2 separate regions of the Homo sapiens genome follow, and region 1 is linked to region 2. The links come from fine-mapping of genetic effects on gene expression. A gene starts in region 2. The other region holds a variant in brackets. All regions are shown on one strand. Distances are between the middles of the regions.

The links. PIP is the estimated chance that this variant, and not a neighbour inherited with it, causes the effect.
Region 1: its variant is fine-mapped to the expression of LDAH in whole blood (INTERVAL, PIP 0.99).

What each region holds. Positions count from the first base shown.
Region 1 is chr2:20,676,722-20,688,953 of GRCh38, reverse strand. GDF7 (growth differentiation factor 7) reads right to left here. Exons shown (of 2, transcript NM_182828.4): 2 at 9,711-12,232. LDAH (lipid droplet associated hydrolase) reads left to right here. Exons shown (of 7, transcript NM_021925.4): 7 at 1,860-4,923. The coding sequence ends at 2,051. Among named protein-coding and RNA genes, the nearest start is that of GDF7, 16 kb to the right of the region's middle. RefSeq lists an enhancer at 12,010-12,232. The variant A/G (reference allele first, on the strand shown) is at 9,057.
Region 2 is chr2:20,814,264-20,831,796 of GRCh38, reverse strand. LDAH (lipid droplet associated hydrolase) reads left to right here and starts at 8,696. Exons shown (of 7, transcript NM_021925.4): 1 at 8,696-8,760. RefSeq lists enhancers at 8,513-8,902, 9,123-9,192, 8,995-9,820.

The sequences.
Region 1 (12,232 bases), 140 kb after region 2:
AGATGACGGGTTGATGGGTACAGCAAACCACCGTGGCACGTGTATACCTATGTAACAAACCTGCACACTCTGCACATGTCCCAGAATTTGAAGTATAATTAAAAAAAAAAAAAAAAAAAAAAAAAGGAAACCTCCATGAAGCAATTCAGAGTAAGTCTGCCACTTGAGGTTTACTTGTTCATAATTTACTCTCTGGAGTACTATGTTAAATTTTTTCCTCTATAAAGTGTTTTTAACTAACCATCTAAATATTGGTTAAGGCATCATGTTATTGTAATGAAGGCCATTGTTTTCGTAAGATCAGTCTCATCTGTCCCATATTCAGGTCATGGATTTAATAATTGATACACTCAAACTATCCAGTGAGCAATAACGCCTGCTTCCCTGCACTCTCCTCCCCCAGCACTTGATCACCTCCAATCCTTCTTCTCGTTGTGGCCAGAGTGGTTTTCCTGACATAGGGACCTCAGCATGTCACTTCACTGTGCAGTCTTTTTTGCCTTGTGGACTTCGGGATAAAGCGCAACCTCCTTGGCATGCATAGAAGATGCTGTCCATGACCTCATCCCTCTCTGCCTCTCCAGTCTTATCTCCCACCACCCTATATTCCAGCCATGTGGAATTCCAGTTCCCCACACATGCCATGCTCTTTCAAGCTTTGGTTTGCTTGGTCTTCTCCCCACAGTGTGCTGCCCCAGCTTGAAGACTCAACTGAGGCATCAACTCTGGGGAATCTTTCCTGCCTACTACTTCTGACCAGCTGCACCTCACCTGAGCTCTCAAATTGTCTTGTATACATGGGGTCCCCTTCTCCCCTCCCCCCAAGACTGTCTTATCTCTATTTTCCAGGTTCCTAATACAAAGTAGGTGCTCCATTTGTATTTGATGAACAAAGGAATGAGTAAGCAATTCAGTGTCTGAATGAAGGAGCACATTTGGTATATTAGGGAAGCTGCAAGTGACTACAGCTGGCCAACTAGGGGCTGGAGCTAGGCATAGCTCTGTCTTTCAGTGATAACAGAGGTCAAAGGATCCTTAAGATTTAGTTCTTGGTTTTTGTAGAAATTGCCACTATCTGTTCTTCTGAATATAAGATGTTGCTTTGTTGCCTTTATTTTTAGAACTAACAGAACTAGAACATAGCAGTTTTTCAGTGAAACACAGCAGCCTAGAGCAATATACATATATATCACATGCAGGTTTAGGTAGATATCCATTCAGGGTCTTAGTAATGCCACAGAGGAGGCTCTGTCTCCATTCAGCTGCTTGCTGTCAATTGAAGTATGATTATTGCACTTCCCCACTGAATCAACATACAGGCTGCATAGAGCCTTTTCTTAGAAAGGTCATAAACTCTCTCAGGATTCTGATCACATTTCATCAGCTACATTGGAAAGCCTGAGTCTATCTGATCTGTGTTTGTATTCATTCAACAAATACATCCCATATGACTACCATGTGGCTATTTGGAAACAACTAAGTTTATTAACTGGTCACTAGTCATTCAGTGACTATGTCTCAATAACTGTCTTCGTCATCCTCACCGGCCTTCATTCCAGTGTCCATCCCAACCTTAGTACACAAAACTTTCCTGGTAAGTCGTTTCAGTGAATTATGAGTGATCTATCACACAAGAGTCTCCCAGCATGGGGATCTTCCCACCAAATTCTTCTAAGTGCACTCCTGTACATCGTGAAGCCTTGCTGCCTTGAGAGAGCCACACTCTGGAGAGAGCTTAGGGACTAGCTCCCAGGGTCAGGCGTAGGTGCTGTCCTCAGAGCACTGCCGGCTGCTGGTGTCATATCTGTGTCAGGAAGGGAACGTGTTTTCTAATAAAAGGTTTTTGTCTTGTCTTTCAGCTTACATTTTATTATGGTACTATAGATCCTTGGTGTCCAAAAGAGTACTATGAAGACATTAAGAAGGATTTTCCAGAAGGAGACATTCGACTCTGTGAGAAAAACATACCTCATGCTTTCATCACCCATTTTAACCAGGAAATGGCAGACATGATTGCTGACTCCCTAAAGGATGACTTGTCCAAAATGTAAATTGGCCTGAGGAACAAGCCCCCACTGCCAGTACATGGAGGCAGTCAGTGTACTAGACTTAGTAGGTAAATGTTTAATTTTGAAGACTGATATTAGAAATGAAGAAAGTGAGAACCTTTGTCTTACAAACCAACTCTCCGCTCGCCATGTTATAGGCTGAAGTAAACACAGTTGATGAATCATTCCATAGGTTTAACCATACATTTTCCAAGACTCAGGGAACACAGTGATCTACACAGAGTCTTGTGTTTGCACAAGATGCCCAGTGGCACCATATGGTTTATTTTGGTAGGCAGGATCTTTGCAGATGAAAAAAAAATCTACATGTACTTGATTTTAATTGAGTTACATTGTAGAATAGGCTCCTCTGGAGGAAATTATGAAATACCTACTAGAAAATGTAAAATAAATCAGTGAATGTTAAGAGTATAGTTAGATATGTGAAGTGTATGAGATTATGACAAGGATACACTCATGTTCCAGGAGCAGGAAGTGAACCTGGGTCTCCTGTAAGACAGAAGATGAAGATGAGCCCAGGCTAACTTAGCACAGATCTTGGCTGAGATCATCAATGTGACGTCTAATGTACCTGCACTAGACAGAGAATAAAGTTCACCAGACATTACTCTGGTCAGCTAACCAGATAAAGAATTGTTGAAGGACCCCAACTGTGCCTCCTGCCACAGGACAACCAGCAAGTTCTATGCTGAGCCTTAGCCTCCCAGGTTATAAGCTCCCTGCAGGCTCCTCCTCTCCAGAGCCAGGATGGAGAGGCACTGGGCTGTCCCAAAGCAGGCTTGGATGTGCCAACGTACAGTTGCTCCTTCTGTAATTCTTGCACTAAAACTCCATTAAAGACCATCAATGAGCCAAATAGTGTGCTAGCCATTGAGGATGGAGTTCTTAGCTACTTAATGATTCTTTTCTTCTGGAAATCTTCTAGTGAATAATTTTTAAAAGCTTCTTTTAAACTGCTCAGTAAAACATTGCCATACATTAACTCTCCATTTCTGCATTAACTTCATTTGCTGGAAAGAAATTATTTTGTTAATGAACCAAACCCAGCCATTAAGTTATGTGAATTCACCTTCTCTAGACACATTGAGGTATGGCAGAGAAGACACATATTCCCTGGCCTAGAGTGGGCTGACAATATTGCTGCCTCCCCTAAATTGACTCAATCTTGAGAACCACATACTGCAGTGACAGTTGATCATGGATCAGAAATATTCCTTTTTCTCCTAGAGGAAATCCCTCATGGCATTATCATTCCCTAAGGACAATGAGATGTCCCTCCGCTCAAATCCTAAAGCCCCCTGATGAAAGATTTGGCTCTGATTTGCTGCCAACTTATTGGTAAGTGCTGAATGAGTTACTGTGCTTTGGCATAGCTTCTACATCACAGCAAGTGACTTCTCAGAGGGGAAAAGCCAAGCTCCAGACAAGGAGTGCTGTTAGCCCAAGGGGAAGAGCTAATAGATACATAGGCCGTAAGCACAGGGCTGTACACAGATCCTTTATTGGCATCTGCATGAGAGGCCTAGAAATCGGATGTTAGAAGCTAGGAATCATGGCTCTGAGCGCCTTGCATACAGGAGATACTCACTGATACTAAATCAAGGCATGTAAACAATACTGGGTAAATCATACCTACCAGAATAAAGAGTAACATTCAGAGCTTTTCTTTTATCTGTTATTTTAAATGTTACTCCATATTTCAAAAGTCTGCACGTATGAAATTGTGTCTTATTTCTGGTTTTTAGAGCCTAAGAAAGATACTCATTCTTAATTCCTATTTATCATCTGAAAACCAAATGAATTTTTGAAATAAATGTTTTACCAGCATTTCTGACCTGGTCTGGCCTGATCTCTGTGTTGGGCAAGAGAGGGTACAATTTGAGCAGTTCTCCTGAGTTAGACTCGGCTCAAAGTCTCTCTTTTAAAGTGAAAAGCCACCTTTCTCATTGCTTTTTTCATAGGTGGAAGAATCAGATTTCAAGAGACTGAAGTTCATTCTGTTTCATTAGGGATTAGACTAAAATGGACAAACAGTGGAAGAAATCCATTTTCCAGAAGCAGCTCTGCCTGTATGTCCCAGTCAACCACATGGATGGTCTTTGTGAAAGTTTTAACTTCCTGCAGAGTTACCGAGTGCTCAGCGATTGAGCTTTGACCACACCCGTGTTTGTTCCTAGTCTGTTCCCAGCCATAAGCATCTCCACAAGCCCTCTGTGGCTTGTGTGGCCTGATGTCCATGGCCACCAAGGGCCTCTCACCATACGCTTCTCCACTCAACCTTTGGAGAGACACGGACCACCAAAGGCTTGATTTTTCTTCATCCTACATTATATTCAAAACAAACAGGCTGGGTGCCGTAGCTCACACCTGTGATCCCAGCACCTTGGGAGGATGAGCTGGGAAGATCGTTTGAGGCTAGGAGTTTGAGACCAGCCCGTGCAAAAAACGAGACCTCGTGTCTAAAATAATTTTTAAAAAAGAGCAAAAAAAAAAAGCAATTTCAGATTAAAGGAGACTGAAGAGACATGACAATTGGACACAACATCTGATTCTGAATTGGATGTTTTTGTTATAAAAGACATTGTTGAGACAATTTGCACAACTTGAATGAGGTCTGAAGATTAGCTGGGAGTAAGATGCCACTGTTAATTTTCTGATTTCAGTGGTTGTACTGGGAAGAAGTAAGAGAGTGTCCTTGTTTGTACTGGAGACACTGAGGTATCTGGGGGTGAGGGGCATCATGTCTGTTTACTGTCAGATGGTTGAGGGGAAAATAATGTTCTTTGTACTTGCAGATTTTTTGGAAGTTTGAGATGTTTTAGAATTTGTAAAAATAATTATTTTTAAAACCCCACCATGCTATCTCCTGCATCCGTGTCTCATTGCTTCTTTTCCAAAAAGGCTATTTCCTCTTGTACGCAGTAAATGAAGACCTGGGTTCAAATCCCAGATCTGTCATTTGTTAGGTTTGTGACATAAGACTTCACTTCACCTCCCTGAGTCCCCCAGCTCCTCATTTTTTTTTTAATGGAGATAAAATGAGGTCATGCATATAGCATTTAGTATGTTGCCTGGCATATGGTGGATTCTCTATAAAATGGTACCTAAAGGAGGATAGCAAACTTGTTTTTCCTTTTTTCCTTTCATTTCTCTTCTCTTTAGTGTAGCAGAGGACCCTGTGGTATCTCAGTCCCTGCACTGTTTCACCAGGCTTGTAACTTGATTCTAGCAGTCAGCATTTTGGCTCTTACGCAGGGATAACACTTGCTCACCTGGCTCAGCTTTCTGGCCTCAGCCCATTCAGGCCTCCCTGCACACAGCCCAGGATGTTCTAACAGTCGATTTAGAAAAGATGCGGGAAGCAAAGCATTTCTTAGATGGCTTGAGACATCTTCATCCCTGGCCTTCTCTTGCAGAAGAGAAGAGGCAAGGATATATTTGGGCTGCTCCTTCCCTTAGGGGTGGGCCTTAAGGAGAGGTTGGAGGCTGGGACTGAGTGTGCTCTGTGAACAAATACATCTGTGGGACCTTGAATGAAGCTCTTCTGCAGGAGTGCTGAGGACAGCAAAGCTCATATGAGTGTTCTTCTAATCACTTTTTAAGAGGATTGAGATTCCTGCCTGTGCCCCATACAGACATGGGTAAGTGATCACATTGGCCCAGGTGAGGAGTGTCTGTGGGACATGGGTCTGGCCTCTCCCACCAGGCTGAAGGCATCTCTAGAGCAAGACCGGCGTCACTGAGTGTGATGCTGGGTGAGCATCCTCAGAGCACGAACGAGGGTCAAAGAAAGCTCTGGGTGGTTCTATGGTTCTATAAAGGGTTCTATAAAGACAAAGCTCTTGGAAGAGAGAAGAGGATGAGGTTGCCCCTAGTCCTAGAAGGGCAGGTAGAACTTGGATAGGTGGTTTGGAATAGATGAGAGCTAATCCAGATAAGGAGTATGCTGCTCACCCCAGCACCTTCACAGTGTCTCACTTAGGCCTCCCAATCCTGTGATGTTCTGACTATGCCCATTATACAGATTACCACTGAGGTGCCTTGCTAAGGACCTCACAGTTAATAGATGACAGAGCTGGGGTTCTCCTGTAGTTGCACATGTCCTCCAAAGTTCGTGTGTTAGAGACTTAATCCCCAATGCAACTATTGGGAGGTGGGTCCTAACAGGAAGTGTCTGAGTCATGAGGGCCCTTCCTTCCTGAATGGATTAATGCCAGTGATAAAAAGCCACAATATTAGGCTGCAAGTTTGATCTCTTGTTCTCTCATGCTCTCTTGCCCTTCCACCTTTTGCCAGGGAGGATGTAGCACAAAGGTCCTCACCAGATGCCAGCCCCTCAATCTTGGACTTTCCAGCCTCCAGAACTGTAAGAAATAAATCTCTTCTTTATAAATTACCCAGTCTCTGATATTCCATTATAGCAACAGAAAATGAACTAAGCCAGATTCCAATTCAGGCCTCTACTCCAGAGCCACCACTTCATCCCCTTTTTCCACTGCATCATGCTGCCTCCTGGAGGCCACAGTGGGCAAGCCTAGCAAAAGTGGAGAGCCGGGAAAGAGAGTCACGCAAAGGGCAAATGAGGACCCGATTGACAGAAGAAGTGACGAGTAGATCGTTGGTAACAAATGAGTAGTTTTAAAAGAATGAAAGCTATAACAGAGACCAGTTTTCAGACGGCAAAAATATGCATCAGGCAGTGGATTGAGAGAAAGCAAGCCCACATGCTGGGAGTCAGTGCTGTGGCTGCAGCCACATGGCCGGCACCTCTGCAACTCTTCCATAGCCACCTGGTCTTATGCCACGCACGGGAGCTTCCTGTGGACTCCTCTGTACAGGAATCACTGCTCCAGCTTTGATTACGCCCATCCTCTACCCCACCCCATGAGACGTGGCCTAAAATACCAACTGCTCCTGCCTCCCAGAGCGGTCCTTCCCACCCTTCCATGCCCTGCCAGTCTTCATGACCCCTGGCCTGGCCTGTGTCTACTGAATGACTTATCATTGCTGCGGGATTGTGTCTCTGCAGTCTGCTCCTCCCTGCCTCCACCAACACCCCTTCTCTCAGGAGAGTCCTAGAAGATGACCTTCTGTCTTAGTCATCTCTGTGCTGTCAGGGCATATCAAATATGGCCTGCTACACAGGGTAGTCTATAAATTTTGTTATCTAAATTAATAAAAAGTTTCTACCATACCTAATAGGCAAGCTGTGAAAAAGTGCAATTCTCACATTGGGTCGGACTACCAGGAAATCACATCTCTGGGCTTCTTCATCTTAAAACTGACACATCAGTGGGAGTGCAGACATGGACACTTGCTCTTTTATCCCTTAAGTGTTTCCCCAGCAGAGCTGTGCACAACTGGGTCAGATAGATTCAAGGATGTCTGAATCTTTGCAGACTGTTTGTGTCTGGCACTGGGGGACTGCAAGGAAGCAAGGCCACTATCCCTTGTGTCCCATTCATCTTGTCTGATATGGCTGCAACTGTTACTTCCATTCTTCTACAATTAGAAAACCTCTGGAGTTTGGGTATTAGCAACTACCAAATATGTAGTTTATTATTTGCTGAGCACTAACCCCGCGCAGCACCCCGAGTGGGAATTACAGCAACAATACACATGACTGTGCTCTGGGATAATCGAGCATTTTCATTTTGTGTTGCATTCCTCAAACATTCTGGCAAAGGGGCCTGTGCTGACCTCCCCACATTGGGACAGATTTCCTTGCTGGGTAAGTCTATGGGAAAATTCCTCTTCCCTGGGATGAGAATGTGACCCTGTGACTGGGCGTCCATTACAGCCAGGGGGTGCGGTGCACCTGCAGGGTCTCCCTCCCTCACAGAGGGACTAGAATCCCGCCTCTGCAAATCCATCCAGCTCAGGCTCTGCAGAACATCTGGGCTTCCTCCTACTGGCCACTGTGAAGGGCCACGCACCTGCATGTGATTAGGACTCGGCAGACACCCACAGCCTATAGGGCTGCATGCTGGTGGCACCTCACAGTGGACAAGTTTCTCCCCAGATCATTGTCCTTTCTGAGCAGATGAGTCACAGGGTTCCTAGGACACAAGAGCACATGCATCCATGACCACGTTGGGCACCACCCTCAATGGAACAGCAGTTGGAGGCATCTTTGCCTTGGCCTGCTTGGAAATGAGCAGGCATCAGAGGCAGATCCAGGACCTGACAGGACCAGGGAAGGAGTGGAGAAGTCAATCTTAGCCGCCTTTACCATTAGTCATGGACGGGCCTTTTAGATTTGCTCTTATCAGTGTCTGGGAAATTGGATAAAATTTTTAATGCCACTCCCGACTTTCCTTTCTCCCTGTAACTACTCCTCTACTGAATGTGTACTCTAACCACAGAATGCTGTGGTAGGTCAAATGGAGACTGAAAAATAAGAAAATGAAAAATGGACCAAAGATGCTTATAAACAAAGCATGACAAGACATTCCAGTTTTCGATGGCAGGGTCATAGAACTTACACATTGATTGTACCTGCCAAATGAGTTAGTTGGAAAGGGAACACAATTTCTCTTCCAAAGAAGAGACTCCTTTATTTATAATAGGAAATCGAGTGGTGAAAAGAAGGCAGGCTTTCTTGATCTTTCACCAGAGAGAGAAAGTTACATAACCACAGGGACCTGCATTAACAAACTGGGATATTGAATTCACCATGAACATGGGCTGCCATCACTGACGAAAATGTGGGTCACTCCAGCAGGCTTCATATCGCAAAAGAGGTAATCCTGGTAACAGTCACTAATAAGGCCAAGTCCCTGTCAACTTCCTACAATTCCTGCTCTGTCATTAGTCCTCTCCCAGAAATATTTAAGGAACACATGAAATAGATTTCTCCATCTGGGCAAAAGTCAGCTGTGAGAGCTGGGATAGCAACAGAACGCTGTGTGGTTGATCCTGTCCTGCTGCATCCTTCGTGGTGTCACCAAGCACAGGCTTTTGTACTTGTCTCGAAGAGTACTGGGC[A/G]AAAAAAAAGGCCTGTCGAATTTGCTGTAGGACCTTATTGGGTTCTGTGACGTATGTAATTGGCCTTGCAGAGGAAGCGGCTTCCATGGGACTTTATGCCTTGGGATTTCAGAGACTTACCTGTGCATCCTCCAGGTGGGGAGGGCTCATGCTTTCTGGAGTGAGACAGGTCCTGCAGCAGTCTGAGATGTATAAACACAGAAAACCTGTCCACCCAAACTGCATTTGGAATGACAGTGCTCACTCTACACATTATCATGCTCATTTCCCAAAGAGAAAATGTTTTCCACTGCATTTTGGCCTCCTTTCCTGAACCCAAGCTTGATGTTTTTTACCTTGCTCTGCAGTGACTTCATGCCGTGTGAGGCTGTGTGCAGCAGCATCATATACAGTTTCATACCAGTCACCAAGACCCAGGGTGCAGCCCCCCATACCAGAGGCCCACAGCCTCACACCTGATCTGACAATACAGGGGAATGATCGGCACAAAGGCAAGTGGAGTCAGGCCTGTTATGTCACTCTCACTATTAAAATGCAGTCAGTCCTAAGGCCTCAATAGCTGGTCGCTATTCTATTAATGAGGACTACAGTAACACAGAAAGGCTGAGTAACAAAAGCTGAAAATGTTTTCCTTTAGAGACCAGTCATGAGCGGTTTTATGAATAAAATATTTAATCAACTTATCTGTACAAAATATTAAAATGGTTAATGAAGAGTATACAAGCATGTTCAACAAATATATACTGCTATATAATAGTTAAGAAAAATAGAGATTGCTGTTTTACATGTCATTTACATTTCACTATGTACAATCTATTTAAATTTGAGAATATATATACACATAGGTTTCTACCAGCCCTGGGAGGGCTCCCTGCTAGCTGGCCTGGGCATCGGCAACACCTCACAATGTCAGCTTGCATTGCCCAAATAAACACCCAAGCCAGGCAGCAAGGAGACAGCCCAGCCTGCAAGCCTCGGAGTTCTGCTGTGGCTACACCAGCAGGAAGACTGCTGATGAAGGAGATTTCAGTTTGCCTTAAATGAGTTTCTAATGTCCCCCCACACTCCAATCTCCTTACTCCCAAGCCAAGCTAAGAAAAAGTGGGTGTCACTGCAAAGCGAAAGGATTTCTATCCCCTCACCAAAATAATTCTTTTTGTCTTTAGCTGCTGAGGAAATGGCATGTTACTGAGCCTTGATGGCATTACTGGCACTTTGAGTTTTACCGTTTCCTTAAAATCACAGTACTGGAATCAGATGAAATTTGCTTTCTAAGCTGCAGCCACTCGTCATGTGCAGAATTCTGCTGCCCACCCAAGTCCTGCTTAAACAGCCGCATTTTATAAGCTGGTACGGGAGCTCTGCAACAACCTTCACAGAGAAAGGATCTGCTGCTTTATTTGTATACAAAAAGAAAAAGACAGTCCAAACTTTTCAGAATCCCTTATTGTCATCTGCTGAAAGGGCAAGTTGTAGTTAGCATGTTAATCCTTGTAAAAAATGCATTAACTTTTCATTTAGGGTGAAATGCTTCCAGCTAAAAGACCTAAAGTGACTCAATTATGATTCTTCGTCAAAGAAAACATAAAAGCTGTTTGCATTACAGTGTAAAGTGAAATACAAAAATAAAATTATTCTAAGGATGCTCATGTTTAATCCATGATTTATCCAAGGCAGAGAATGCCAGAGAATTCCTCTCTTGAGAGTCTCTGTTCCTGGCTTAGAACACTTGAGTATTTCCCCTCCAGAAAACATATTTTATCCTGAGCTTTCTTTCTCACTGAACTGCATCATCATTTTCTAAACAGAATGCTGAAGAGCTGACTTTGAGTCTGACAGGCCCTGACCCAGGAAATGAGCCCTGCTTGTGGGCAGCCCCTTCCTCAAGCCAGCCTACTCACCCCAAGCCCAGCTGCTGCTGCTGCTGCTGCCCCAGGCCAGGGGAGGATCCAGGACACATGTGCGTTGTCTGGCCTTGGCAGCCCTCAGTCACTCAGAGATAAAAAGGTGCAGGCAAGGGGAGGCCCTCAACACACCTGGTCACTGCTTTTCAGACTCATTCACCAAAAAATCCAGGCATGGGCTGCCCATAGCCCATGAGCGGTCTCCCCAGGATGACCTGTGAGTACTAAAAACCAGAGAAAAGGTGTGTGCAGTTGCACCAGCTCACCAGCTTCGGTGCTGTCGCTTCCCATGTTGCAGCTCAGGAAATGTCCTCGAGGGAAGTTTAGCCCCGTTTGCTTTGGATTCGTTCCTGTTTCCTTCTAATTCAGCAGGATGCCTGTTAACGAACCTTACTCGGAAGTCTCGCTTTGGTCAGCCATGGTTCTAGATTCTGGCAGCCAAAGGTCTGGGCAGGAGCTAGATGCAGAACTGGTTGTGGCTGTTGCCACTGCTGGTCAGATGGAGCAGTGCAGGTATTCTGCAGAGAAGACAGCCACTTGCCCACCTCCTGCCTGGACAAATCTCCAGCCCCCACTACGTAGCACTCCTGTTGGCCCACAACACAAAAGGTAATGAAACGGGAATGCAGATGCAAAGCAGCTGGCCGTGCCCTGGCCGCTCTGGACCACTCTGCCGAAAGTGGCCTGGGTGTGACAGAAGCTTCTTGTTTTTCTAGACAGTTTATTTCAGCATCCCCTTACTGACATAGAAAAGAGATTAAAAGTTTCTGTAATACAGCTTCTATCAGGTGGCCCTCTCTGGAGTGAAGCATTTCTAAACTAGCAGAAGGAAGTTCATCTGACAAAAAAAGAGTGAAACTGTACTTCTTGTATCATCACACCAAGCTGTCCTGCCAACAAATTCACCTGACTGCACAGAAACACCTCTCTCCGGAAGTTTCTGTGACCGCTGCAGCCCCCTTGCCACTGTCAGGGAAACGTGTGAGAGAAACCCACCCTTTCTGTTGTCACAGACACATGCGCACCATGCACAGATGCTAGAAGAGGCCTGCAAGCTCTGCAGAGGCAGGAGGAAGTGGACCATCGCACGCTGCTCTGCTGCTCTAAGGGCATATTTTTGCTTTTTCAGCAACTGTGAGCATAACTTGAAACTCAGTCTGATTTTTCAGTGACTTCACACCCATTTTTCAATGACCACCCATCCTGGGTTGCTCTGCTGTAATTGGTCCTGCCGCCATGAAGCACCAGCCCAAACTTTGCCCAGCCAAAGGC
Region 2 (17,533 bases):
GTGGTTGATATACCTCTGAAATCATGTCATGTTTGTGGGACACTTTACTGGATTTCTCTGTTCTATAAGAGGCAGCTTTCTCCCTTCTGCTGTATTCCTTGGTACCAAAACCTGTCACAGTGGTTCTTGTCACAGAGGATTGCCTTGGGATCCCAAAATCTCTCCTGGACTTTGTGGAAAAATTATTTATTTCTTCTTGCTGCTAGAGTTTTCTCTCCATAGGACTCAGACATGAGTCTATATGGATTGGGCAAAGAGGGGCCATTTATGCCTGAGACCATCATCCTCAACTTGCCCTCAAACTTCTTTGCCCCTTCTAGACCCATGTAAACCATTTTGACATTTCTCTGTCAAGTCACAGAACTTGACATGAAGCAGATATTGTTATTTGACAAAAGTATCTCCTTCTGATCATTTACAGATTCCTTAACATTTCATAATTAGCCTATTTTACAAGTCTCAATTTACATTCTGGAGCTTCCTTTCCATAACTTATTTCCTATCACCCAATTATGAAGTTAAATAATCAGGAAACCCTTCATTGCATCTTTTTGTGGCCACTGCTAAACCAAATGAAGCAGGCAGTCAGCCCTTCATGGCTTTTATGATGAGTCCTCAGATACCCCTGGAGTAGGTAAGGATGTATCAGGAGGCTCTCTGCTGGAAATAACACAACACACCTGAAACTGACTTAAAAATAGGGCTTTCTTGGCTCACACAACTGGAATGTCCAAAGAGTAGCAGACTTCATGCATGATGATCAGAACCCCGCCTCCATTTCTCTGTGATTCTCTCCATGTCTTACTTCTCCCTATTTCAACTTTGCATCATGGAGACCAAACGTCTGCAGCAATTTTAGGCATCATATTCATATAGCACATTATCTGGAAAGACAAAGAACACAACTTGCCTGGCATCCCACGCTTCACCCTGACAGAATGGGCTTAGGTTACAGATCAAGCCAGGAACTAGTGACTAAGGCCAGGGAAGGGGAATATGATGACAGATTAAGCCAATCAAGGGTCGTCCTAGAGCTTCGCCCTAAACACATGAGCTTCCTAGGAGAAAGAATAAGTATTATTAGAAAAGAATAAGAGGGCCAGGTGCAGTGGCTCACACCTGTAAGGTCAAGACAGGAGGATTGCTTGAGCCCAAGAGTTTGAGATCAGCCTGGGAAATATAGTGAGACCTTATCTCTAAGAGAAAAAAAAAATTATCCAGGCTTGGTTGCTTGCACCTGTAGTCCTAGCTATGCAGAAGGCTGAGGTGGGAGGATTCCTTGAGCCCAAGAATTGGAGGCTGCAGTGAGCCATGATTATGCCACAGCACTCCAGCCTGGATGACAGAAAGAGACATTGTCTCAAAAAAAAGGAGAGGTGGGGTGGGAATAGATAACTAGACAAGAGAAAAAAAAAGGTCCCCATGTCACCCATTGCTTCAGTTTTGTTTATTCCAATGCCATACTATCAGCTAAAATGTCACTTTCTATTCCATTTCTTAGCTGGAACTACGCTCAGCTTTGCTATCCAACCAAATACACCATACAGGATTTCACATTTCTCTATGTGCCTGTATTAGTCCATTTTCACACTGCTATAAAAATACTACCAGAGACTGAATAATTTATGAAGGAAAGAGGTTTAATTGACTCACAGTTTCACATGGCTGGGGAGGCCTCAGGAAACTTACAATCATGGTGGAGGGTGAAGAGGAAGCAAGGCACATCTTACATGGCAGGTGAGAGAGAGAGAGAGAGAGAGAGAGAGGACAGGGTAAACTGCCAAACACTTTAAAAGCATCAGATCTTGTAAGAACTCACTCACTATCAGGAGAAGAGCATGGGGGAAGCCACCCCCATGATCAAATCACCTCCCACCACATCCCTCCCTCGACAGGTGGAGATTAGAATTCAAAATGAGATTTGAGTGGGAAGTCAGAGCCAAACCCTATCAGTGCCTTACACTAAGATCTATGTTAGATTTCAACAGATTTATTTAGTATTAGGAATAACAATAATAATAATAAACCAGTATTTTGAGTTGAATACAAATCAATAATGAATTAGAGCAACTAATTTAACTGCATGGTTTTTACCCCTAAAAGTAGCAGAATTCCCTAAAATTTACAGTTTTAGAGAAAAATTTAAAATGCTTAAAAATTCCAGCCAGGTGTGGTGGCTCACGCCTGTAATCCCAACACTTTGGGAGGCTGAGGGGGCGGACAAGTTGAGCCCAGGAGTTCGAGACCAACCTGGGCCACAGGGAAAAACCCTATCTATACTAAGAATAGAACAAATTATCTGGGTGTAGTAGCATGTGCCTGTAGTCCCAGCTACTCCAGTGGTTGAGGTGGGAGGATCAGTTGAGCCCAGGATTTCGAGACCAACCTGGGCCACAGGGAAAAACCCTATCTATACTAAGAATAGAACAAATTATCTGGGTGTAGTGGCATGTGCCTGTAGTCCCAGCTACTCCAGTGGTTGAGGTGGGAGGATCACTTGAGCCCAGGAAGTCAAAGCTGCAGTCAGCTGTGATCATGCTACTGCACTCCAGCCTGGGAAACAGGAGTGAGACCCTGCCTCAAAAAATAAAAAATAAAAATAAATAAATGAATAAAATGCTTTAAAATTCCATGTAGGTATTAAATAATAATTCAAAATAGTACTACAGAGAGAGTATCAAGGGACCGTATGATTATCTTATGATAATTTAGAAAATATGAGCCATGAGTTCAGAATGAAAACAAGAGGCGTGTGAGAGTAGAGTATATAAGGATTCTCCCACTCTCCTTATCCAACATTTATTTCCTAGTTTCATGCAGCTCTCTTCTCAAAATTACCTAAGACAGGATTTTTCCTGCCTGCATGATATAAAGTAATGCACCATTGTGGCAGTGCATCTCCACAATGGTCCCCAGTAGCCCCAGCCTTTCAGAATTCACATATCTTCCCACATTAAATAGCATGTAGAAGTGATAAGTGATTCATTTCACTGAGGGAATGATGCAGCAAGCCAATTCTGAGATTAGGTTATAAAAGACTGTGGCTTTTGTCTTAGGTACTGTCTCTGTATTCTCTGTCTCTTCCTCTGATGGAAGAAAGCTGCCATATTTCAAACAGCACTGTGGAGAGGTCCTCATGGTGAAGAACTGTGGCCTACAGCCATTGAGGAAGTCTGACCTGCCAACAACCAAATAATCTAGTCTTGCTTCTTCAGCCCCAGTCAAGGCTTGAGATGCTGTAACCCTGAGCAACTGGCTTAACAGGAACCTCATGAAAGACTTGGCTAGAACCTCTCAGCTAGGCTGCTACTGGTGTCCTGACCCTTTGAAACTGTGTAAGATAATAAATGTTTTATGTTTTAAGCTGATATATTTTGGTGCAACTGGATAAATAGTAACCAATGCACTCCTTGCTCTCTGTTTCTAACCTTGCCTTTTAATTCCCCTTGCACTGTCATTATATATTAATTTCTTTAGTTTGTTTATTGTGTCTGTGAGAACAATCACATTTCTCTTTGAGTTGCCTTTGTATTCCTAGCCTGGAAGAGTGTTTGGAATGTGACAGATAGTCAATAAAAAATGGATGAGTAACGGGAGTCTAAAATTTTTATGCAAAAGACGATAGCTTTTCATTTACTGTTTTTAAGTCAGTCTACAGTGGTCTGACTTTATGGCCATTTGTGATTATAGTAGACATCTTCGTGGAATGTCTGCCCCATTCACTATGATCCTCTTACTTATGGCAAAAAGTCAATATGACCACAAGCACTTGTCATTGACAATTGAATGATTGCTGGACACCAGACCTGCTATGTTGGTGACTGGATCATGAGGGATCTGCTGTTATGAATGGATTAATCCATTCATGGACTAAGAGATTAATGGGCTAATAGATTAACGGGTTATCACAGGAGTGGAACTGGCGAGAAGGCTCTCACCAGCTTCAGCCTCTTGACCTTGGCCTTCTCAGCCTCTGGAACTGTAATAAATAAATTAGTTTTATTATTTATTTATTTATTTATTTATTTATTTTTGAGATGGAGTCTCACTCTGTCACCCAGGCTGGAGTGCAGTGGCGCCATCTCGGCTAACTGCAAGCTCCGCCTCCAGGGTTCACGCCATTCTCCTGCCTCCTGAGTAGCTGGGACTACAGGCGCCCGCCACCACGCCTGGTTTATTTTGTTTCTGTATTTTTAGTAGAGACAGGGTTTCAACGTGTTAGCCAGGATGTTCTCAATCTCCTGACCTAGTGACCCGCCCGTCTTGGCTTCCCAAAGTGCTGGGATTACAGGCGTGAGCCACCATGCCTGGCCTAATAAATTTGTTTTTAAAATAAATTACCCAGTTTCAGGCTGGACAGAGTGGCTCACACCTAGGCAACATGGCAAGACCTTATCTCTAAATATGTGTGTGTGTGTGTGTGTGTGTGTGTGTGTGTGTGTGTATAAAATTTATATCAGTCTACAGTGGTAGACTGATATTAAAAATATATATATATAAATTAGCCGGGCATAATGGCACATGCCTGTAGTCCCAGCTCTTCAGGAGGCTGAGGCAGGAAGATAGCTTGAGCCCAGAAGTTCAAGGTTACAGTGAAAAATGAAAATGAAATTAAATAAAATAAAATGTATAAATTACCCAGTTTTAGGTATTCTGTTATAAGCAACAGTAAATGGGCTAAGACAGAAAATTGGTACTGGGTTTGAATATTTGTCCCCTCCAAAACTCATTGTTGTAGTCTGTTTGTGTTGCTTTATAGGAATACCTGAGGTTATGTAATTTATAAAGAAAAGAGGTTTGTTTGGCTCATACCTCTGTAGGCTGTACCAGAAGCACGGTGCTGGCATCTGCCTCTGGTGAAGACCTCAGGCTGCTTCTATTTATGGTGGAAAATGAAGGAGAACTGGTATGTAGAAACTGCACAGCAATAGAAAGCAAGAGAGAGAAGGGAGGGGGTGCCAGCTCTTTTAGCAACCAGCTCTCATTGGAAGCAACAGAGCAAGAACTCATTCACTCTTGCGAGCATGGCACCAAGCCATTATGAGGGATCCATACCCACAACCCACAACCCAGACACTACCCACCAGGCCCCATCTCCAATACTGGGGACCACATTTCAATCTGAGACTTGGTGGGGGCCAAAACAAACCATATCCAAACCATAGCATTCATGTTGAAATTTATTTCATTTTAAATAATGTGTTTTGTTTTTTATTTTTGTGGGTACATAGTAAGTGTATATATTTATGAGCTCATGTTAAAATTTAATCCCCAAAGGGGAGTATTAAAAGATGGGACCTTTATGGGGTGATTGAATCAGGAGGGCTCGGCCCTCATGGATAGATTAATTCCTTCATAGATTAATGGATCAATAGGTTAATGAATTAGATTAAGGGGTATCATGTGAGGGGAACTGGTGGCTTTCCAAGAAAAGAAAGAGAAACCTGAGCTAGCACACTCAGCCTCCTGGACAAGTGAGGCCCTGTGCTGCCTTAAGACTCTTCAGAGAGTCTTTCACCAGGTATAGCCCCTCGACCTGGGACTTCTCAGCCTCCATAACTGTAAGAAATAATTTTTTCTTTACAAATTAGCCAGTTTCTGGTATTCTACTATAAGCAACAGAAAATGGACTAGGACAAGACCTGAGCTGAGCCAATCAGAAATTCTTCCCCGGGTATTAGGAATTAAAATCGAAAGAGGGAGAAAAAAGAATCTCTGTGTGGCTGTCCCTCTGCATCAATCTGGACAGGCTGTGTGGCACTGTGGTAAGAAACAACAGCAACAACCTCCAAAGCCTTAAGCAACAAAGGTTTATTTCTTATCACAATATGTGTTGCTATGGTTTGGATATAGTTTGTCCCCAAAAAGACTCATGCTGAAATTTGGTCCCCAGTGTGGTGATGTTCAGAAGTGGGGCCTATGGGGAGGTGTTGGGGTCATGGGGTGGATCCCTCATGAAGAGATTGTTGCTGTTCTCGCCAAAGTCAGTTCTTGTTCTGAGACACAGCAGAGACCCCTCTTAAGGGCTTGCAGGGCACTCTCCACCAAAAGATGAAAATAAAAAAAAATCTTGACTTCCTTAAAGAAAATTCCAGACATCTAGCTAGTCCTAAAAACAAAAACAAAAACAAAACAAACTTAAAAGCAAGAAGATAATAAGAGCTTAAAACAATAGCCAAAAAATTAATGTCACGGGATATTGTATTTCCTATAAAAACTAAAGGTAACATCTTAACATATGTCCCAAGTTGTTTTTCAGAAACCCAGATCCCCACTAAATGGATCCACTGGCACACAGGCCTCAAATAAGGGAGAATTGAAGGCTAAACTCTGACTACTATTCTTTGTTCTAAATTTCTTCTTGAGGTGCTTAAAGGAGGCCATGCCCATGAGCCCAAGCTAATATCCTTTTCTGCTGATATCAAATTTTTAGAGAGTTTCACCTTCTTAACAAATCACAAATCAGAAAATCCTTAAATTCCACCTATGACCTGTGGGCCCCCCTCTTTGAGATGCCCCGCCAATGCACGGCAGGCAAGCCCCAAATTGGGGATTTGCCCAGTAGAGTTCTTAGCTTCGCCAAGAAAGAATTCAAGGGTGAGCCGGTGGTGTTAAATAGCAACTTTTACTGAAGTAGTAGTGTCCAGAAGCAGCAGAGATACTGCTCCTTGCAGAGCAGGGCTACCCCATAGGCAGTGTGTCCAGAGTAGCATCTGAAAGGCAGTTCTTCTGTCATATTTATAATCATTTTTAATTACAGGCAAATTAAGGGGTGAATTATGCAGAAATTTCTAGGAAAAGGGTGGTAACCTCTGGGTTGTCAGGTTGTTGCCATGGAAAGGGGCATTAATATGGAAAGCTGCTTCCTCCCTGCCCCTGTTTTAGCTAGTCCTCAATTTGGTCTGGTGTCCAATTCCTGCATCCTACCTCACTGCATTTTTAGGTTAAGCCAATATATAACCTCCATATATTGATTTATGACTTTGCCTATAACCTCTGACACCCCTGCATTTAAAAACCCTTACCTATAAACAATTAGGGAGTTCAAGACTTAAGCACTAACTGACCAGTTCTCCTTGCTTGGGACCCTACAATAAATGCCTCACTTTCTTTCACTATAATCCTGATGTCAGTGTTTGGTCTTGCTGCACAGGCAATTGGACTCCAGTTTGGTTTGATAACAGCTCTTGAGAGATTGGAAAAGAGAGAGTCCCTGAGAGAGTGGGTTGTTTTCCACCTCCTGTTTGGTCTGTTTTCACATGTATCAGCTTCCCCTTTGACCTTCTACCATGTTGTGACACTGCACAAAAAACTCTAACCAGAACTGAGCAGATGCTCACACTATGCCCCTTGAGCTTTCCAATGTGCAGAACCATGAGCTAAGTAAACCTCTTTTTTAAATCCAAGCATACTTTGAAGATATTGGGGGTTCAGTTCCATACTACCACAATAAAGCAAACATCACAATAAGGCAGTTCACAGAATTTTTTTGGTTTCCCAGTGCATATAAAATTTATATTTACACTGTACTGTAGATTATTGTGTACAACAGTATTATGTCTAAAAAAAGTACATACTAAGAAAAGAAAAATAGCCCAGAGCTGTCTGAGCTATGTGAGGTATGCAAAATTTATTAGACCCGGACAGAAGTGAATACTGGCTTCCGCCACGCCTTCCCATGCCTTAGGGCAATTGTTAAAGGCATTTTGTTCTTTATTAGCTGCCTCACCCATTATCTTTATGTTCCTGGAATTTGTGATACAAGGAAGAAAGCATAGCCAGTCAATAGCTTAAGTTTTTTAAATATAAATTCTTGGTAAACAAGTTAAGCTCTGCCTCCTCTCCTTTCCTTAAAAACCGGCTCACGCCTGTAATCCCAGCACTTTGGGAGGCCGAGGCGGGTGGATCATGAGGTCAGGAGATCGAGACCATCCTGGCTAACAAGGTGAAACCCCGTCTCTACTAAAAATACAAAAAATTAGCCGGGCGCGGTGGCGGGCGCCTGTAGTCCCAGCTACTCGGGAGGCTGAGGCAGGAGAATGGCGTGAACCCGGGAAGCGGAGCTTTCAGTGAGCCGAGATTGCGCCACTGCGGTCCGCAGTCCGGCCTGGGCGACAGAGCAAGACTCCGTCTCAAAAAAAAAAAAAAAAAAAAAAAAAAACCTACTCCGACTGCTGCTAATTGGAGTGTATATTCAAGGCAACTTGAATCTAAGCTCCTGAGTGGCCATTCTCAAGCACTGAGCCCAAATAAACTCTATACTTAATATTATTCTCTGAATTTTCTTAAAGTTGGCAACACCTTAATTAAAAAAATACTTTATTGATCATGCTTATGAACATGATCAAATGAGAATCAACTTTCCTGTGTATGTGGGGAAGATATGCAACTAGTAACGCAGAAAGAGGGAAATGGGAAGAGGGAGAAAAGAGGGGCAGACATGGAACAAATGAGAGAGAAGGAAAGGGAAGCCAGAAGCCAGAAGCACATCAAGGATGACAGAAAATAAAAGGCGGATAAAATTCAAATGAAAAAGAAAGGAAAACCCCGACACCCTCCAAGAGGTCTCTCTGATCTGGACCACCGGCTCCAAGCCAGTAAGAAATCTCCCAGCCAGCTGTGCGCCGCGCGCCAGGCTGACATCGGCTTCCCGGATCAGCTCCGGCGCGGTACTGTGACGTCACCTGAGGGGGGCACTTCCGGTCTCGTGCCGCCTTCCCAGGACCCTCAGGGAGAGCGGGCAGCCTTCCAGGTGGACAGGTGAGGTACAGCTTGCCGAGCTCAGGGTGACTGCCCAAAGGAAGGACGGGTGGGCAGGCACGCGGGATCTGGCGCCCCTTCTTCTCTATGGTTCCTCGCAGAGCCCCTGTTGCCCTGGGCCAGATGGCCCGTAGCAGCAAAAATAATACTGTTCCGACAGCTCGCGAGTTCGGAGCCACTTGGCCTGGGAGTCCCTTGAGTTGCAGGCCGGGCAGTCGCTCACCCGAGCGCGGTAATGCAGCATTTGAACCCCTAAGTGTAGCCCACCTGTAGGGAGTCTTATGGTGCCCCCGCGGAGGAGTAGAGGCCAAAAAGTTGGGCAGCTGGCCGGGAAGAACTCGCTAGGAGGGGTCAAACTCTGGGCCGGGAGTGTTCTTTGCCCCCGGCGTTTAGTGCTCACGCCGCCTTTTATTCACGCTGAAGACCTTAACCGTAAACCCTCATCCTTGGGTCTTAGTTTGGTTTTGTTCCCCACGCAAGACAGAATGCAGATTGGAACACTTTATTCCTTGGTTAATTCGTATCTTCCCTCGCAAGTAGTTACCGGACACCTGCTTTGTGTCCTGTGTACCAAACACAAGAGTTGATAGTCCTGGCCGGGCGCCGTGGCTCACGCCTGTAATCCCAGCACTTTGGGACCCCGAGGCGGGCGGATCAGGAGGTCAGGAGATCGAGACCATCCTGGCTAACACGGTGAAACCCCATCTTTACTAAAAATACAAAAATAAATACATAAATAAATAAATTAGCCGGGCGTGGTGGCGGGCGCCTGTAGTCCCAGCTACTCGGGAGACTGAAGCAGGAGAATGGCGTGAACCCGGGAGGTGGAGCTTGCAGTGAGCCGAGATGGCGCCACTGCACTCTAGCCTGGGCGACAAAGTGAGACTCAGTCTCAAAAAAAAAAAAAGAGTTGATAGTCCTTGAGTTGAAAGAACAAATCTGTATGGAGAAAGAGATACAACCAAAAGAAACCCAGAAGATTTAGAAGCATCTCCAGAATGTTTATTCTCAAAAGCTGTTTTTTAATTAAACTTCTTTCTGAAACTATACGTAGGAGTGTCTCTTGTGTGTTTCCCCATTTTTCCACCTGAAGGTTAAAGACTTAGAAACCTGCTAAGGCCCCTCTTTCCAGCATGTAGCATTCTAGGGGGATAATCAGGGCAACACAGTGGGTGCCCATCTAAAATTTTATATTTTAATATTTTGCTTTTTGATAACTTAATGCCTTCAGACTGGAGGATTTTTTCTTTCTTTTTTTTAATTTTTTTAAAATTATACTTTAAGTTCTAGGGTACATATGCACAACGTGCAGGTTTGTTACATATGTATACATGTGCCATGTTGGTGTGCTGCACCCATTAACTTGTCATTTACATTAGGTATATCTCCTAATGCTATCCCTCCCCACTCACCCCACCCCACAACAGGCCCCGGTGTGTGATCTCCCCCTTCCTGTGTCCAAGTGTTCTCATTGTTCAATTCCCACCTATGAGTGAGAACATGTGGTGTTTGGTTTTTTGTCCTTGCGATAGTTTGCTGAGAATGATGGTTTCCAGCTTCATCCATGTCCCTACAAAGGACATGAACTCATTCTTTTTTATGGCTGCATAGTATCCCATGGTGTATATGTGCCACATTTTCTTAATCCAGTCTATCATTGTTGGACGTTTGGGTTGGTTCCAAGTCTTTGCTATTGTAAGTAGTGCTGCAATAAACATACATGTGCATGTGTCTTTATAGCAGCATGATTTATATTCCTTTGGGTATATACCCAGTAATGGGATGGCTGGGTCAAATGGTATTTCTAGTTCTAGATCCCTGAGGAATCGCCACACTGACTTCCACAATGGTTGAGCTAGTTTACAGTCCCACCAACAGTGTAAAAGTGTTCCTGTTTCTCCACATCTTCTCCAGCACCTGTTGTTTCCTGACTTTTTAATGATCACCATTCTAACTGCTGTGAGAAGATGTCTCATTGTAGTTTTGATTTGCATTTCTCTGATGGCCAGTGATGATGAGCATTTTTTCATGTGTTTTTTGTCTGCATAAATGTCTTCTTTTGAGAAGTGTCTGTTCATATCCTTCACCCACTTTTTGATGGGGTTGTTTGTTTTTTTCTTGTAAATTTGTTTGAGTTCTTTGTAGATTCTGGATATTAGCCCTTTGTCAGATGAGTAGGTTGCAAAAATTTTCTCCCATTCTGTAGGTTGCCTGTTCACTCTGATGGTAGTTTCTTTTGCTGTGCAGAAGCTCTTTAGTTAAATTAGATCCCATTTGTCAATTTTGGCTTTTGTTGCCATTGCTTTTGGTGTTTTAGACATGAAGTCCTTGCCCATGCCTATGTCCTGAATGGTATTGCCTAGGTTTTCTTCTAGGGTTTTTATGGTTTTAGGTCTAACATTTAAGTCTTTAATCCATCTTGAATTAATTTTTGTATAAGGTGTAAGGAAGGGATCCAGTTTCAGCTTTCTACATATGGCTAGCCAGTTTTCCCAGCACCATTTGTTAAGTAGGGAATCCTTTCCCCATTTCTTGTTTTTGTCAGGTTTGTCAAAGATCAGATAGTTGTAGATGTGTGGTATTATTTCTGAGGGCTCTGTTCTGTTCCATTGATCTATATCTCTGTTTTGGTACCAGTACCATGCTGTTTTGGTTACTGTAGCCTTGTAGTATAGTTTGAAGTCAGGTAGCGTGATGCCTCCAGCTTTGTTCTTTTTGCTTAGGACTGACTTGGCAATGCAGGCTCTTTTTTGGTTCCATATGAACTTTAAAGTAGTTTTTTCCAATTCCATGAAGAAAGTCATTGGTAGCTTGATGGGGATGGCATTGAATCTATAAATTACCTTGGGCAGTATGGCCATTTTCACAATATTGATTCTTCCTATCCATGAGCATGGAATGTTCTTCCATTTGTTTGTGTCCTCTTTTATTTCATTGAGCAGTGGTTTGTAGTTCTCCTTGAAGAGGTCCTTCACATCCCTTGTAAGTTGGATTCCTAGGTATTTTGTTCTCTTTGAAGCAATTGTGAATGGGAGTTCACTCATGATTTGGCTCTCTGTTTGTCTGTTATTGGTGTATAAGAATGCTTGTGATTTTTGCACATTGATTTTGTATCTTGAGACTTTGCTGAAGTTGCTTATCAGCTTAAGGAGATTTTGGGCTGAGACGATGGGGTTTTCTGAATATACAATCATGTCATCTGCAAACAGGGACAATTTGACTTCCTCTTTTCCTAATTGAATACCCTTTATTTCTTTCTGCTGCCTAATTGCCCTGGCCAGAACTTCCAACACTATGTTGAATAGGAGTGGTGAGAGAGGGCATCCCTGTCTTGTGCCAGTTTTCAAAGGGAATGCTTCCAGTTTTTGCCCATTCAGTATGATATTGGCTGTGGGTTTGTCATAAATAGCTCTTATTATTTTGGGATACGTCCCATCAATATCTATTGAGAGTTTTTAGCATGAAGAGCTGTTGAATCTTGTCAAAGGCCTTTTCTGCATCTATTGAGATAATCATGTGGTTTTTGTCTTTGGTTCTGTTTATATGCTGGATTACGTTTATTGATTTGCGAGGACTTTTTTCTTTGTTAAAATGTTGCTCTGCTTTCAGCATTTTCTCCCTTGTAGTATTACCATAATGTATTTAAGATTGAGCACTTAATTCTGAAGTCACTTTAAGTATACCTCAACCAAAGGGAAATTAATATATTATTTCTAATGAGTGTATTTAATATAGGTAAGTAGTTTGTACACTTGTGAAATTCTTGGCATTAATTGATGTCCAGAAGCTGAAAGCTACTCTCTGGTACATTAAAAAAAAATTGTGTGTGTAATTACAAGAAAGTTTGATGTCACAGTTGCAAAGGAGTTGTGCAAAACAAATTGCCTTTTTCCAGTAAAGATAATTCAGCAAGTTCATCTTGAGTGTAGTGTGTGGTTTCGTTTTTAATATGTCCTCAGCAGTAGTCATAGATTTTATCTTCATCATTTAAGCTTTATTTTCTGGCCCACTTGCACAGATTTAAGAAAAATCTCACTGGGGTTAGTGTGCAGTCATTCAGACAGCAAATACAGCAAAAGTAGGTGAAAATGTAAAAGTCATTAAAAGAAGAATTGTGAAATTGCTCATCTCGCAACCACATCAAGCAGGAGCAAAGACAACTACACAGAATCTTGGTGTAACATACACTCATTACCACTTGGACTTTCTCCTACAGTATTTTGCAGTTTGTTTTTTGGATTCTTTAGTGTTATATAATATTTCAAAGTAATATGTGACTGGGAAATATTGGAATAGGTATCAGAAGACTGTAGAATTTATTTTGCCATTTAAATGCTTATGTCCTTGAACAAAAAATGTAAACATCTTTGACCTTCAATTTCTTGTTCTATTAATTGCCTGCTTTTTAGGTCTGATGAGAAAGGAAGAGAATATAATTTGCAAATAAAAAGAAGCAAAAAAAAAAAGCAGTAGTTTTATTGCAAGGGGCTAGATGGTGATCAAGTTAGGATATAGAAAACAATTACTTGTTCTTACATGTTATTCTGGAGAAAGATGAGATGGATACCCATAGTTACAGCAGAAGCGTAAAAAGAATTCTGTTTATGCATCATCTGTTTATGTGTTGACTTTCACCTGTATGTTTTCAAGTTTATATAGGGCTATGTGCTAAGATTCCCAATTTTCCCCTTTCATACCACTTATTATACCAGTTGCAATTAAATACATATATAATTATTAATAACTTTTTTAAAAACCTTTTTGTTTTGAGAGAATTGCATATTCAGAGGAAGTTGCAAAAAACTTTACAGGGAAGTCCTTGTGTACCCTTCAGACTGCCTGCCTCAATGGTAACAACTTGGATAACTGTGGTACGATATTAAAACTGGGAAATTGACATTGATACAATTCACAGAGTATATTTCCATTTCACCAACTTTATAAGGACTCATTTGTGTGTGTACACAGGTCTATGTGTAGCTTCTTATAACTACCGTAATCAAGATAAAGAATTATTCCATCACCACAAGGCTCCCTTATGCTGCCTCCTTATAGTCAGTCTATCTTGTCCCAGCCCTATCCCTAACCCGTGGCAACCACTGCTCTATCTCTATAATTTTGTCATTTCAAGGATATTGTGTAGATGGACTCATACCGTATGTAACTTTTTGAGATCCATCCAAATTGTGTGTATCTGTCATGCATTTCTTTATTTATTGCTGAGTAGTATTCCATGGGATGGCTATGCTACAGTTTGTTTAACCATTCATTCATTGAAGAACATTTGGGTTACACTATTATAAATAGAGCTTCTATGAACTTTTGTCTGAAGATTTTTGAGTGAACATACATTTTTCCCCCTCTGGGATAAATGCCCAAGAGTACAATTGCTAAGTCATATGGTAAGTGTATGTTTAGTGAATTAATACTTCTTTAGCTTGTTGATATGGTGAGTTACATTGATTTTAAAATGTTGAACACAACTGGTATAAATCTCACTTGGTTAAAGTATATAATTATATATTTCCATATTCTATTTGCTAATATTTTGTTAAGGTATAGGTAGAGAGGTGTGAGAGGTTAAGGTATAGGTATGAGAGATGTGTTGTAGTTTTTTGCTTGTTTGTTTTGTACTGCCTTTGTCAGGCTTTGGTAGGGTAATAGTATTCTACATGGTTTTTAGTGATAACCCTTGTTTCATTATTGCTACTGTATTAGTAATTTGTGTCATTTTATCTTTTTCAGTGATGATTTGCTGGTTATAGTGACCTTTTTCAAAGAACTCGCTCTTTATTTCATCTTTGTCTATTTTTATATTTTTAATGTCATTGATTTCTGCTCTTATATTTATTATTTTCTTCCTTCTCACTTTAGGTTTATTTTGCTTCTTGTCTAGTGCTGTGATTATTAGTTTAAGGTCTTTCTTTGTTTCTAACGTAAGCATTTATTGCTATAATTTCCCTCTTGGCATTGCTTTTGTTGCATCTCACAAATTTTGCTGTCTTGTATTTTCATTTCTATCCAGTTCTATATAGTTTAAATTTTTCCTTAGAAATTTGCTTGACCCATGAAAATATTTGGGAGTGTGTCATTTAGTTTCCAAGTGTTTGGTGATTTACCTGTTGTTTTTCTGTTGTTGATTTCTAGTTTTTTTCCACAATGATCAGAAAACATAAGCTGTATAATTTTTAATTTTTAAGTTTCTTTTATGACTGAGGGTATGGTGTATCTTGGTGGATGTTCCATGTATGCTTGAAAAGAATGTGTATTCTGTTATTATTGGTTGCAGTGTTCTATACATGTCAGTTATGTCCTGTTCATTGATGGTGGTGTTCTGTTCTTCTGTGTCTTCTTGATCGTCTAATAGTTATTTTCGTTGCTGAAGATCCCAACTATAATTATGGATGTCTCTGTTTTTCCTTTGAGCTCTGTTGGTTTTGGCTTCATGTTAAATATCTGTTGTTTGGTGCATATACATTTAAGATGTTTTCTTGATGAATTAATCCTTGTATCTTTGTACAATAATTTTCTTTGCTCTGAAGTCTACTTAACTGATGGCAGTGTAGCCATCACTACTTAAAAAAAGTAGTTAGTATGGCATATCTTTTCCATACTTCTGTTTTCAACCTACCAATGTCATTATGTTTTAGTGAATTTCTTATAGACGCTATATGCTTGGGTCTTTTAAAAAAGAAACTTCTCTGCCAATCTCTGTCTTTTAACTAGTATAGTTATATCATTTACACTTAAAAGTAATTGCTGTGTTAGGGCTTAAGCCAGCCATTTTATTATTTGTTTTCTGTTTATTTCCTGTTTTTCATATCTGTTCCTCTTTTCTGGTCTTTCTGTAGGTTGCTTGAATATTTTCAGAATTCTATTTGACATGTTTATAGTGTTTTTGAGTATCTGGCTTAGTTAACCTTTTTTAGTGTGCTTTGGGTATAACAATAGATGTAACAACTTATCACAAGGGATACTTTTATTGCCTTTTGCCAATTGAAGTTTAGAGACCTTTCTTCCATGTAGGTCCTTTCTCCTTTTCCCTTTTTAAAATTTAATATTTGTATTTTCTCTATACACCTTGAACACCACATCAAATGTTGTTATAACGTTTACTTCAACTATCAAATATGATTTAAGAAACTCATAAGATGAAGAATAGTTCATTTTATATTTACCATGACTATTACCCGTTCCAGTGTTCTTCCTTTACTCAAATTAAACCTTATTGATACATCATTTCCTTTTTGTTTGAGGAACTTTTTTTTAGGAGAACCTCCTAAAGATATGTCTGTTAGTGACAAATTAGTTTCCGTCATCTGAGAATGTTGTTCCCCTTTGTTCCTGAAGGGTGGTTTTGTCCTATATGGAATTTGGCCTTGACAGTTCTTTTTCTTTAACATTTGAAAAATGTGCCATTTCTTTCTGGCTTCCATGATTTCTGATGAGAAATCTGATGGCATTCAAATTATTGTTCCCCTTAAAGGTAATGTGCCATTTCTCTTTGGCTGCTTTTGAGATTTTTTTCTTTGTTTTTAATTTTCTAAACTTGACTTATGATGTATCTTTTATTTTTATTTTTTCCCACTTAGGGTTTTTCTCAGCTTCTTGACTCTGTAGATTTATGTCTTTTGTCAAATTGTGAAGTTTTCAGCTATTATATCTTTATTTTTTTCAGCGCCATACTTTCTTCTCTTCCTCTAAAACTCTGATTGGATGAATGTTAGGTCATTTGTTATTGTCCTACAAGTCCCTGATGCCTTTCTTGTTTCTTTGTCTGTTTTTCTGTGTTCAGACTAAGTAAATTCTGTTGATCTGTTTTCAAGTTCACTGATCCTGTTCTCTGTCAATTCCACTCCACTATTGAGCCCATCCAGCAAGTTTTTAATTTTAATTAGTATTTTTTCTATTTTGTAATTATTTTTGGTTCTTACTTTTTAAAACATTTCATCCTTCAAGGAGAGCTACTTTCAATATACATGGAATTTCTTGGAAAAACTAGTAACAGTTTTAGGTTATTTGTATATATGAACTAATGTTACTCAAGATTTTAAACCTCTGCAGAGTTATCTCTGTAATTAGCAGATGAAGCATGAACATACATAATTTTTTTCTCTTTTTGTCTCAGGTAATTCCTTGTTACAGGCCCTAATAAAAGGGAAATGGGGAAGGAAATGGAGAAGAGAATTTAGGCCTTGGCAAATTGAAAATTGTCTGTAGTATCTCACTGACAGGTAAAGTAGGAATTTTGAAATTAGAGAAAAGGAACCAGGAATGAAGATGAAATGAAAAATTTATATTTACTTCACTAAAACTTTTAAAGTTGTCATATAGTTTCAGATTTAAAAAGCTATTTCTTCCAGCCTAGGCAACATGGTGAAACCCCTTCTCTACCAAAAATACAAAAAGTTAGCCAGGCATGGTGGTGTGTGCCTATAGTCTCAGCTACTTGTGGGGCGGAGGCTGGAGGATCACTTGAGCCCAGAAGGTTGAGGCTGCAGTGAGCGAAGATTGTGCCCCTGTATTCCAGCCTGGGTGACAAAGTGAGATCCTATCTCAAAAATAATAATAAAAATAAATAAAAAATCAAAAAGTTCTTTCTCCTTTCCTTCATTTCCCTTGAAGAATACTGAAGATTTTACATAGATGACAAATTAGGTAAATCTAAGAAAAAACAAAAATTAAGTAGAACAGGTAACTTTCAGTGGCCATACTTGAGATTTAGGTTATATTGACTGCTGAGGTTTATCAGTTTGATTCCTATCCCTACAAT